3 linked regions of the Homo sapiens genome follow. The protein of the gene in region 2 interacts with the protein of the main gene of each other region in a biochemical or structural test. Each region holds a gene or a part of one and is shown on either strand. Other genes may lie near its edges.

What was found.
Region 1: of the proteins of NUMA1 (region 2) and CDK6, one has a biochemical effect on the other in vitro, tested with the Homo sapiens proteins (one large-scale study listed by BioGRID and IntAct).
Region 3: the proteins of NUMA1 (region 2) and ERG form a complex in vitro, tested with the Homo sapiens proteins (one large-scale study listed by BioGRID).

The regions. Positions count from the first base shown.
Region 1 is NC_000007.14:92,606,917-92,609,650, forward strand, and holds part of CDK6 (cyclin-dependent kinase 6), read right to left. Parts: 3' UTR 1-2,734. UniProt on the Homo sapiens protein: Serine/threonine-protein kinase involved in the control of the cell cycle and differentiation; promotes G1/S transition. Phosphorylates pRB/RB1 and NPM1.
Region 2 is NC_000011.10:72,004,870-72,007,616, reverse strand, and holds part of NUMA1 (nuclear mitotic apparatus protein 1), read left to right. Parts: exon of another isoform or gene 1-181; coding exon 182-428; exon of another isoform or gene 429-1,353; coding exon 1,354-1,582; exon of another isoform or gene 1,583-2,072; intron 2,073-2,247; coding exon 2,248-2,384; intron 2,385-2,747. UniProt on the Homo sapiens protein: Microtubule (MT)-binding protein that plays a role in the formation and maintenance of the spindle poles and the alignement and the segregation of chromosomes during mitotic cell division.
Region 3 is NC_000021.9:38,488,472-38,492,129, reverse strand, and holds part of ERG (transcriptional regulator ERG), read left to right. Parts: intron 1-3,658. UniProt on the Homo sapiens protein: Transcriptional regulator. May participate in transcriptional regulation through the recruitment of SETDB1 histone methyltransferase and subsequent modification of local chromatin structure.

The sequences.
Region 1 (2,734 bases), on a different chromosome or scaffold from region 2:
CAGATAAAAACCTCAAATACCAAAAAATGCAACAAGCTTTTGAGGTGTTGGGAATTGTTGGTTGTTAAAATCCCTTTTATTTTATAATAAATTATACAGGCAATCCTTGCTTTTTATTACCACACTGGATTGCTTCTGTACACAGCTAAGTTGCCTGAAGCATGGAAACTTGGACTTCTCCATCTGACACGTTCTGGAAGCCTCAAGGCACAAGCTGACAGTTCTGCTTCTACAGAAAAACTCTCACACTGCTCTCCTCTCAACAGTACTGCCTGTTCCCACTACTCCACATGACACCTACGAGGGCACTACATCACGTGAGGGAAGCTTCTTCATGAGGGCAGACAAGAGGAGGCACCACCCAGGCACTGGTCTCTGCCTGGCATCTATTCCGAGGGCCACCTGGCACAGTTTCTAAATTAAGGCATATCTAAAATGCTTTTCTACCTTTAGTTTTTATTTTTGCTATATTTTTGCACTCTACTATATGCATATTTAATAAAAACAACTACAAAGTCCTTTACTTTAATTCCTTTACATAATGATAAAACACCTAGATACCCAAAATACTACATCTATATATTCAAATCTACTAATCATGTTACAAATGCATGCAGCTTATTTGGGGGCTTAGTCTAATTTTTATTTTCTTAGGTCCATCAATACCATGATAATGAACATTAGATGCAAAATCCTAACACTTTCTGCCTTCAGTTGTACTTTCACAGGACTAGTGTGATTCAGAAATAAATAACATACATGAATAATAATAGAAATAATTTATGCAAATGTAGAACAACTTGAAAAAAAATCCCCCGCCTGTCAGGTGCTGTTCCTGGGGGTAGCTGATGCTATAAATTCCATGTACTAACTAATATATTTACTACAGGTAATAGGAAAACAAATGAATAAAAAGTGAGGAACTATGATATACATGTGTATATTTTTGCAAACACAGGATCAGAATGAAAAGATATATCATGCACTGTGAGGTTTAAGAAATGTATTACTGCTGGGATTTGTTTTATTATTCAGACTTTAAGATCAAACTGAGAGTTGTTGGTGATCACAGAAATATTGCTAGCTGATACATATTATTGCATTTCATAAAACTTAAGATTAGAAACTTTCAAGTAAGGGTACAACGGGTATCTTCAGAACTTTAACCTAAGCACATCAACGGAATTTTTCTAGGGACCACAGAGAGTTAGAAATTAAATAATTGTGTGGCTCTATGTGTGCTGATTAGTGCTACAGTCATAGTTCTTGGCAGTCAATATGTAGTTATATGCCCCCTTTGAGAAAAACCTACATTTGACAATCCAAACTCCTAAAATTGAGAAAGGGTTATTTGTGTGACCAAACAACTCACACGGAAGATTCCTCTCAACATGAAAATCCCCTGCTACATGAGATAATTTGTTTACATACCTTTAATTACCTAACAAAGAAAAAGAGAGAAAAGAAACTGGAAGCTAAAGAATTGAGAGCTTTTGCCAACTGAAGACGAAGCAGAAAATAAACTTTTCAAAACAAAACTTTTCCAGGCATATCTTTCACCATCACATATATAGAATGATGGAAAATAAAAAAATAAAAAAAAATTCCTGCAATTATACATCTTTTCTTTAAAAAAACAAAAACAAAAACAAAAACTGAGCTTAGCGCCTGAGAGATGCGGGGTAGACAGCTTCACACAGGGCAGCTGCTACCGCATCTCTTTTTACCCGAACTTTCGGAGAATTGTGTTGTACTTATTTATGCACAGAAGACACCCGTTTGCTACTAGGGACATTTTTCTTCCTAAGATTTGCAGAACAGATGCCTCTGAGACAGCAGCAGGGCACTCTGACCTCGGAAAGCAGCCCGCGGGGCCGCACATAATTTCAGGCACCGGCAGGTGAGTGGGAGGCGGGGCCCCAGCCCGGCCTCGCCCACTGCCTCTCTCCTGCCAAAGGGGCGGGGCAACGAGGCAGCGCGCCCGGAAGGCTTTCAAGTGGGAATCAAGTTTTGAGCACGAGCAAATGGGGTTCAGACTGGCCACTGTTATAACAAACCCTGGGGTGGAATTCGGCCTTTCGCATAGGGGCTTTAACTGGACTCTAGTTCCTGGGAGCAGAGGGGCGAATGAGGCGGGGGATTTCTCAGCCAGTTTCTGACTGCCCCTAGTGTATGTGGCATTTTGGTTCAGTATGAATTACTGAGACTCATCTGCTTGCCACTCAGGAGGAAAGTTGGGCAGGCACCGTCGAGTGTCTGCCACTCAAAAGGAATAAGCTGCTTTCTGTGGTGCTGTGCTAAGGAAACTGAAAAATACTGCAATATCCTTCCCTACTAAATTTCAAGTGACACTGCTGTGAGAAAGGTGACCTCTAAAATTAACTTAATCATTTGGGGTATAAGAAGTCTTTAAGTAGACTTGTAAATTTAAAAAAAGTATATAAAGTTGCCAAAAAACTTCAAAAGTTAAGTATGTAGACACACTCCTAAGTTGTTATGCTCATATACTTCAGACTTTTTTTTTTTAATTAGAGCTTCTTATGAATTTACATTTGTGATTCCACAAATGTTAAAATTACCTGGTCTTTTGGTATTTTAGGGCTCTGTTTCAATACAGCAATTTTTCAGACAAAAGTTTTGTCTACTGAATTACTGATGTGCTACTCATTTTGCTCACCTGATCTTTAAATTAGGATTTTAAAATTTAATCAATGTTGAAAGGCCACCATGCTAG
Region 2 (2,747 bases):
AGTGGACTGAAAGGAAGGCCCAGGTCAAGTGCTTTCCTTGGTACCTCTGAAAAATCAGAGAGATGGGCTGCTTGACCTCATCTGCTTGTAGTAAGGATGGGAAATGGTCACTTTCAAAAAGGGCTGGACAAAATGCCTTCTAGCGTGAAGGACTGTACCTCAGCAGGTTTCCTTTCCATAGCAAGCTGCCTCGTACCCAGCCAGACGGCACCAGCGTCCCTGGAGAACCAGCCTCACCTATCTCCCAGCGCCTGCCCCCCAAGGTAGAATCCCTGGAGAGTCTCTACTTCACTCCCATCCCTGCTCGGAGTCAGGCCCCCCTGGAGAGCAGCCTGGACTCCCTGGGAGACGTCTTCCTGGACTCGGGTCGTAAGACCCGCTCCGCTCGTCGGCGCACCACGCAGATCATCAACATCACCATGACCAAGGTCAGGCTGCTGGGACAGGGGCTGCAGGGCAGCAATTCCCACTTCCTCTCAAGGGCATCTTTGCACTGGGCACTCAGTCAGGAGCAGGGAGGGATGAGCAGCCAGTCCATGTTACAGTGGGAAAGCTGAGAGGTCTTAAAAAGGGCAGTGACTTGGTTAAGGGCACTTCTGAAGAAAAAGGCAGGGCTAGGATTAGATCCCTGCCTCCTGACTAAGGCTAGCATTCTCTCCATGCGTAGCACTGAGCCTGTGCAGGGTGAAGGGAGAGAACGTGGCGAAGCTGCAGCCCATCCTGTGCCTCCCAGCATGCCCCATGCAGCTGAGAGGCATTGTTGCTGCCCAGTGGACTGCCTGACAGGCTACAGGCCCTTGCCTTTGTTTCCACATCTTGAAGGGGAGGTTTGGGAGGAGGGGAGAGGGGCCCCTGGTACAGCAGGGGGGACCTGTGTGTTTAGGGTGCCCCCTGCTACCAAGAAGTTGGGGAAGTTCTGGAACATGGTAAGGGCCCTGGAAGTTTGGACTGAGGGACAGCAGAGGCTGTGGGATGAGCCTGACTAGTCAGGAGACATGGGGCCTAGCCCCAGCTCTGATACTTCCTAGCAGTGTGATTTGGGGCTAGTCACTTTATTTCTTTGCACTTCATCTCCAAAATGGGCCGATAAACACTCTGCATTCCCTACCTCAAAGCATTATGAATAGACTCCATGAAAAAAATGCGTAGAAGAGTCTTGACAACATCAGCACCACCTTGTGAGGGCTTCTGTCGACAAGGCCCATTTCTTGCAGACACACACTTTAAGGACCTTTGCAAAGCAGTTGGGAATACATGGATGTGCCGTGGGATCTGAGGGCTTCGGAAGGGAATGGGAAGCTTCTGTACAGTGCCAGGGACTGTACACTGCAACAGATTCACTCTGTCTTCCAGAAGCTAGATGTGGAAGAGCCAGACAGCGCCAACTCATCGTTCTACAGCACGCGGTCTGCTCCTGCTTCCCAGGCTAGCCTGCGAGCCACCTCCTCTACTCAGTCTCTAGCTCGCCTGGGTTCTCCCGATTATGGCAACTCAGCCCTGCTCAGCTTGCCTGGCTACCGCCCCACCACTCGCAGTTCTGCTCGTCGTTCCCAGGCCGGGGTGTCCAGTGGGGCCCCTCCAGGTGAGGGGACTACAGGGACTTACTATACCCCAAAATTAGACTGGAAGGTGGATCGTGGCACAGGGAAAAGAGGAAAGCTTTTTAAAAATCCAAGGCTGGCCTCCTTGCTACCATCCAGCTCCACCTGCCCCTCCTTCCTGCAGCCTCAGGGCCTTCCTTACCTGCCCATCTAGGGGCTGGCTGTGTTGGGGGCACTCTTAGCCAGAGTTAAGGGCCCGGGATTCCCAGCACAATTGTGACACTTAGCTGTGGGGAGTCCTCCATGCCCTTCTCAGGCGGTGATGGGCTGCTGGAAAGGCCAGGCTGGCCAGACTCTTCTTGGAAGCTCTTGTCCTTTGGGCACCAGGGAGCCCCTGGGAATTAATTCCCGGTCCTTAATTTGTTCCTCTGGGTGTTGGCCACCAAGCCTTGGCAGGTGAGTAAGATGTAGTAGCAGTCTCTGCGTGTGACCTCTTCTGCCCTCTCCAGGGAGAAGGTGGTGAGCAAGCCCCTAGGATAGAAATAGTCTGTGTGCCGTACTCCTGCACCTGCGGCACTGAATCAGACTGGTGTGCTGGGCTTCAAGTTTATGGGGTAGGTGGCAGCAAAGGCTGGCAAGATGCCAGGGCCAGGAGGTGACCTGCCGACTCCAGGCTCATTTGTTCCCACTTCCCTGCCTTCCACAGGAAGGAACAGCTTCTACATGGGCACTTGCCAGGATGAGCCTGAGCAGCTGGATGACTGGAACCGCATTGCAGAGCTGCAGCAGCGCAATCGAGTGTGCCCCCCACATCTGAAGACCTGCTATCCCCTGGAGTCCAGGGTGAGGCCTGGGGTCACTGTGCAGGGCCTCCCATCCCTGCCCTCCCTTGGAATCCCACCTGCTGATCTAGCCTGAGCACTAGGGCCCTGGATCACTGACTGGCCGAGGAGGGGGAGGGTGACCTTCTCATGTTTCCAGGTGGAACAGACAGCTGGGAGGGCACTCAGGGGTGAAGTCCCTTGGGGTAGGCAGGAGCTCAGAGAGGAATCTGGTCAGGACTGCACTGCTTGTGGCCATTTGCCCAGGGCTTAGGTAGAAAGCAGAACAGGAAAGGAGGCCTTGTGTCTTTCTACCTCGTGAGGCAGGAAGGGTCCCGACCATAAGTGTCGGGCGAGTGTAGAGTTCTGGGACAGCCCCAGGTCC
Region 3 (3,658 bases), on a different chromosome or scaffold from region 2:
GATCTCTTTTTTCCTGCTATTCACCCTAGCTGTACATAGTGAATTACTGTGCAGAGAAACATGATGTATTAAGTGTTATGGAGACACATGAAATAATTGGATAATGAAAATTATTATCGCTGGTTACTTTATGTTATCTACTCTTCTGGGAAAAATCCCATAGGCAGCAATTCTTATACTCTAGGTGGCTAATCAAAACAAAGTTCTAGAAAATTCAAGAGGTAAAACTCTAGCACTGAATTCTATATTTGCTCAGTGACAAGAATTCTTTCCATATTTGGCGAGATCCAAGGGGCAGTGCTTCCAGATTCCAGATCAGCTGCTGATTTAAATTTCCTCATCCCAAGTATCAACTTCCTTGCACTCGTCTTGGGCGTCAATAATGAACACGCAGGTCAGAGTTTTCCATAAGGCCTTAACAAGTCTTTCAGCAGGGTGTTCATGGAATTAAACTCTGGGAAGAACGGTAATCTGCTGTTGTACACAGATAAGTACAGAGACATTTTGAAAAGAAATGCTAAGGCCAAGCAAAATGATTTATTTTTAAAGTGCCACATCAGAATCCAATCATAACATTAACCTCAGGGCTGTTACTTTAAACACGTTTGGTAAAAACAATGCTTGTCGAATTTTTGAAAATATAATAACTTTATGCAAAGATCCCGCACTCTTGCATTTAACACATTCCACTTTTTAAATCCTTCTGCCTTGATGATTTAAAATCTCCCTTGCTGGTTTTTTTGTTTTTTAAATTTACCAAGTATTGATACAGAATCAGCACTGAAGACAGGACCCTTCTGCTACCTCCACATTCACATTCCCCCCAAGGCCATTCATTCAGATCGTCAGCCAGCAGTGAGTTTCTCATCTCCATGCTCTTTGGGTTTCATCGGGTTTTATTGGGTCTTTTTTTTTTTTTTTTTAATTTTGACAGTGTGCACATGATGCTCACCTTTGAGGAAGAAGAAACTGTTGAAACAACACTTTAGAATCTGTCAACACAATTAGTTTGTGTCTCAATTTGAGGTAGATGTCCCAAGACATTGCTCCAAGTTAAAAAGAAAAAAAAAGTATGTGGTTTTGCATTGCGTAGTCCTCTTTGGATCCATACGATATGTGTGCCTTCCCTGACCTTCCAGAGAGCATCAAAAACATGAAGGTTGAATCCAGAGAGCACAGCCCACTTTTATCTTTGGCCCAGGGAGGCACTTGGTACTCTGTATTTCTTCGTGGCATCCTTAAAATAGCCTCTGTGGAAAAGGGATTGGCCTTATCTTCCGTGCAACGGATGGGAGGCATAGATATAGCTGCTGGCAAGGGGAAGTGGAAAGAGGCCCATCTGGGAGAGGGTGGCCCGGAGCTTTAGTTTGATGCTGCAGGACTTCCCCAGGTGAACGCACCTCTCCTGGCCCTAGCTCCCTTATAGGAAAATGGAGGTGGTCAGCTCCGCCTTCTCCACAGTGACCATCTGCTGACTGTGCTGCTGCCAGGACGCAGGGGGAGCTAACAGCAGTGCCCCTATCGGATCTTCAAACCGGGGAGGGGTCTCGTGCAGTGGGCAGGGGAAATGGGCTCCCACCTGGCTTTTGGGGTTCACTCCCTGGCTGTTCTACTTCCTGGCCATTTCACCTTTGGCAAGCCACAGCCTCACAGGAGATAGGCTTTTCCATCGGTGAAATGGGTAGAGTGATAGTTCCTACTTCACAGGGTTATAGTGAGATTCACCAAGTCGCAAGAGCCCAGAACTGTATATGGCACACATAAGCTCCTCAATCAAAGTTAGTTAATTTTACTATTCATTCAAGCCAAATACATTTTTCTTCTAAGACTAAAATCAGGGAATCTATGAAAAGCATTTCCCCCTACCTTTTTTTTTTCAATTTCTACAACAGTTTGTGAATTGAATTTTGTTTTCAATTAGCCAATTTGTCCATTTTCCTGTGATGAACATGTTTTTATCTCTTCATTATAAAGTAAGAACTCTGACAGACACAGTGAGCTCCCAATTATTCACGAGCACCTGATCTGCATTGGAGATTGCTTAAAACAGGGCTGGGAAATGCTTGCTGGTGAGTTCACCGGACACTGCACAGCAGGTCCTGGAAGGAGACATTCAGGGCGTTGTTAACTTCTGTGTCTCCCTATTCTTCTTATTCTCCTTCCATACTCTTTCTCTCTCATTGCAATCGCTATCCACCTGGAAGGCGGCTTGAAAAACACAAAAGACAACAAGGATGATGAGGGGGACCCCTCCTGAGCCTCTTAAATGCTGAGGGATCCTTCCTGGACCTGTTTTTATTCATTCCAAGCTGCCTCTCCTAGACAATCACTTCTCTTACCCCAGGAAATCTGGGACGGTGCAGGTTTGCAAGCTTGATCTGGAATAAAGAAACAAAGGAAAAGACGGACCAGGAGGCTTGGCCTACGCCAGGCAAAAGTCAGCAAAAGCAGCCACTACACATCTCCTTTTGAGTTCTAACTTTTCACTTTGTCTTGTGTGAACTCCTAAACTGGAAGCATATTTATAGTCACGTAAAAATAAGAATATTGTCCAAGGCCAAATGTAAGTGACTTTTATGAGTTATTGGACTTTGTGAATTACTCATTCTACCAACCTGAATTAACATAGATAGTTTTGTTGACTTTACCTTCTTTGTAAGCCAAACAGTATGAACTCGGTTAAGCCGGTCTTAGGAGAAAAGACATAAAATGTGTGTTGCTAGGATAGCATTCTAGTGAAGGAAGCCACTTCTTTGTTTCTTGTGCATCCCTGTGAGGGTACCTCTGTCCATCCCAAGAGCTGTTTTCATGGACTCACTGTTGAAAGCCCAAGCCTATTGTAACCAATTTTGATAAGCTGGTTACAAAATAAGCACATGTATACATTTTTTAAAGCCTTGTTCTTCTGGAGATGGAAAACATCTTTTTTTAGATCACATGTTTACTGCTTTGGTAAACAGTAAAATGCTGCTACAGCAATTACCTTGAGGATAAAGGGTTTGTAGACAGATACTTCCTGCGTTCACTTCCTACACAGATAGCCAGCCCAACCAGAGACGCACTGATGCAGGAAGGGCTCCCAGTGGAAACTTCCTCTCTCCGAATGCGTGGTCCATTATTCGTTATCTCCTCTCCAAGGGGAATAAGCTTGTTGCTCCAGATTTTCTAGGAGAATTCTGTCTTGAAACAGGTAAAAATATAAAGTTTCTAAAGTAATGATTACAGTACCTCGTTCTCATCCTCGGTGTCATCTACTCGGTGATTTTTAAGGGGACGTGATTAGACTAGAATAGACTTGTCTATGAGTAACATGCCCCGTAGGCACCTCTGTCTCCTTTGAATCATGGAAAATGATGCATAATTCGAATGTTTTTATATTTGGTAGAAAAATAAGTCTCTTTGAGATTCAATGGAAGGCCTTTTCTATGGTTAGTTGAAAGGTCATTTTAGATTTTGCTTTCTTTAGTCAAGCAGAGATTACCAGATTTGGGTACAAAAAATATCAGCTCACAGATTGTTCTCTGTGCTGATTTTACAGCAGTTACTAAATTCCAACGAATGCATTGTTTAGGCCCTTTGAACCGAAGCAAATAAAACCACAGTGCACACACACTAAACAATAGGGCATCATCAATTAGCCATCTACAGGATGTGTCCT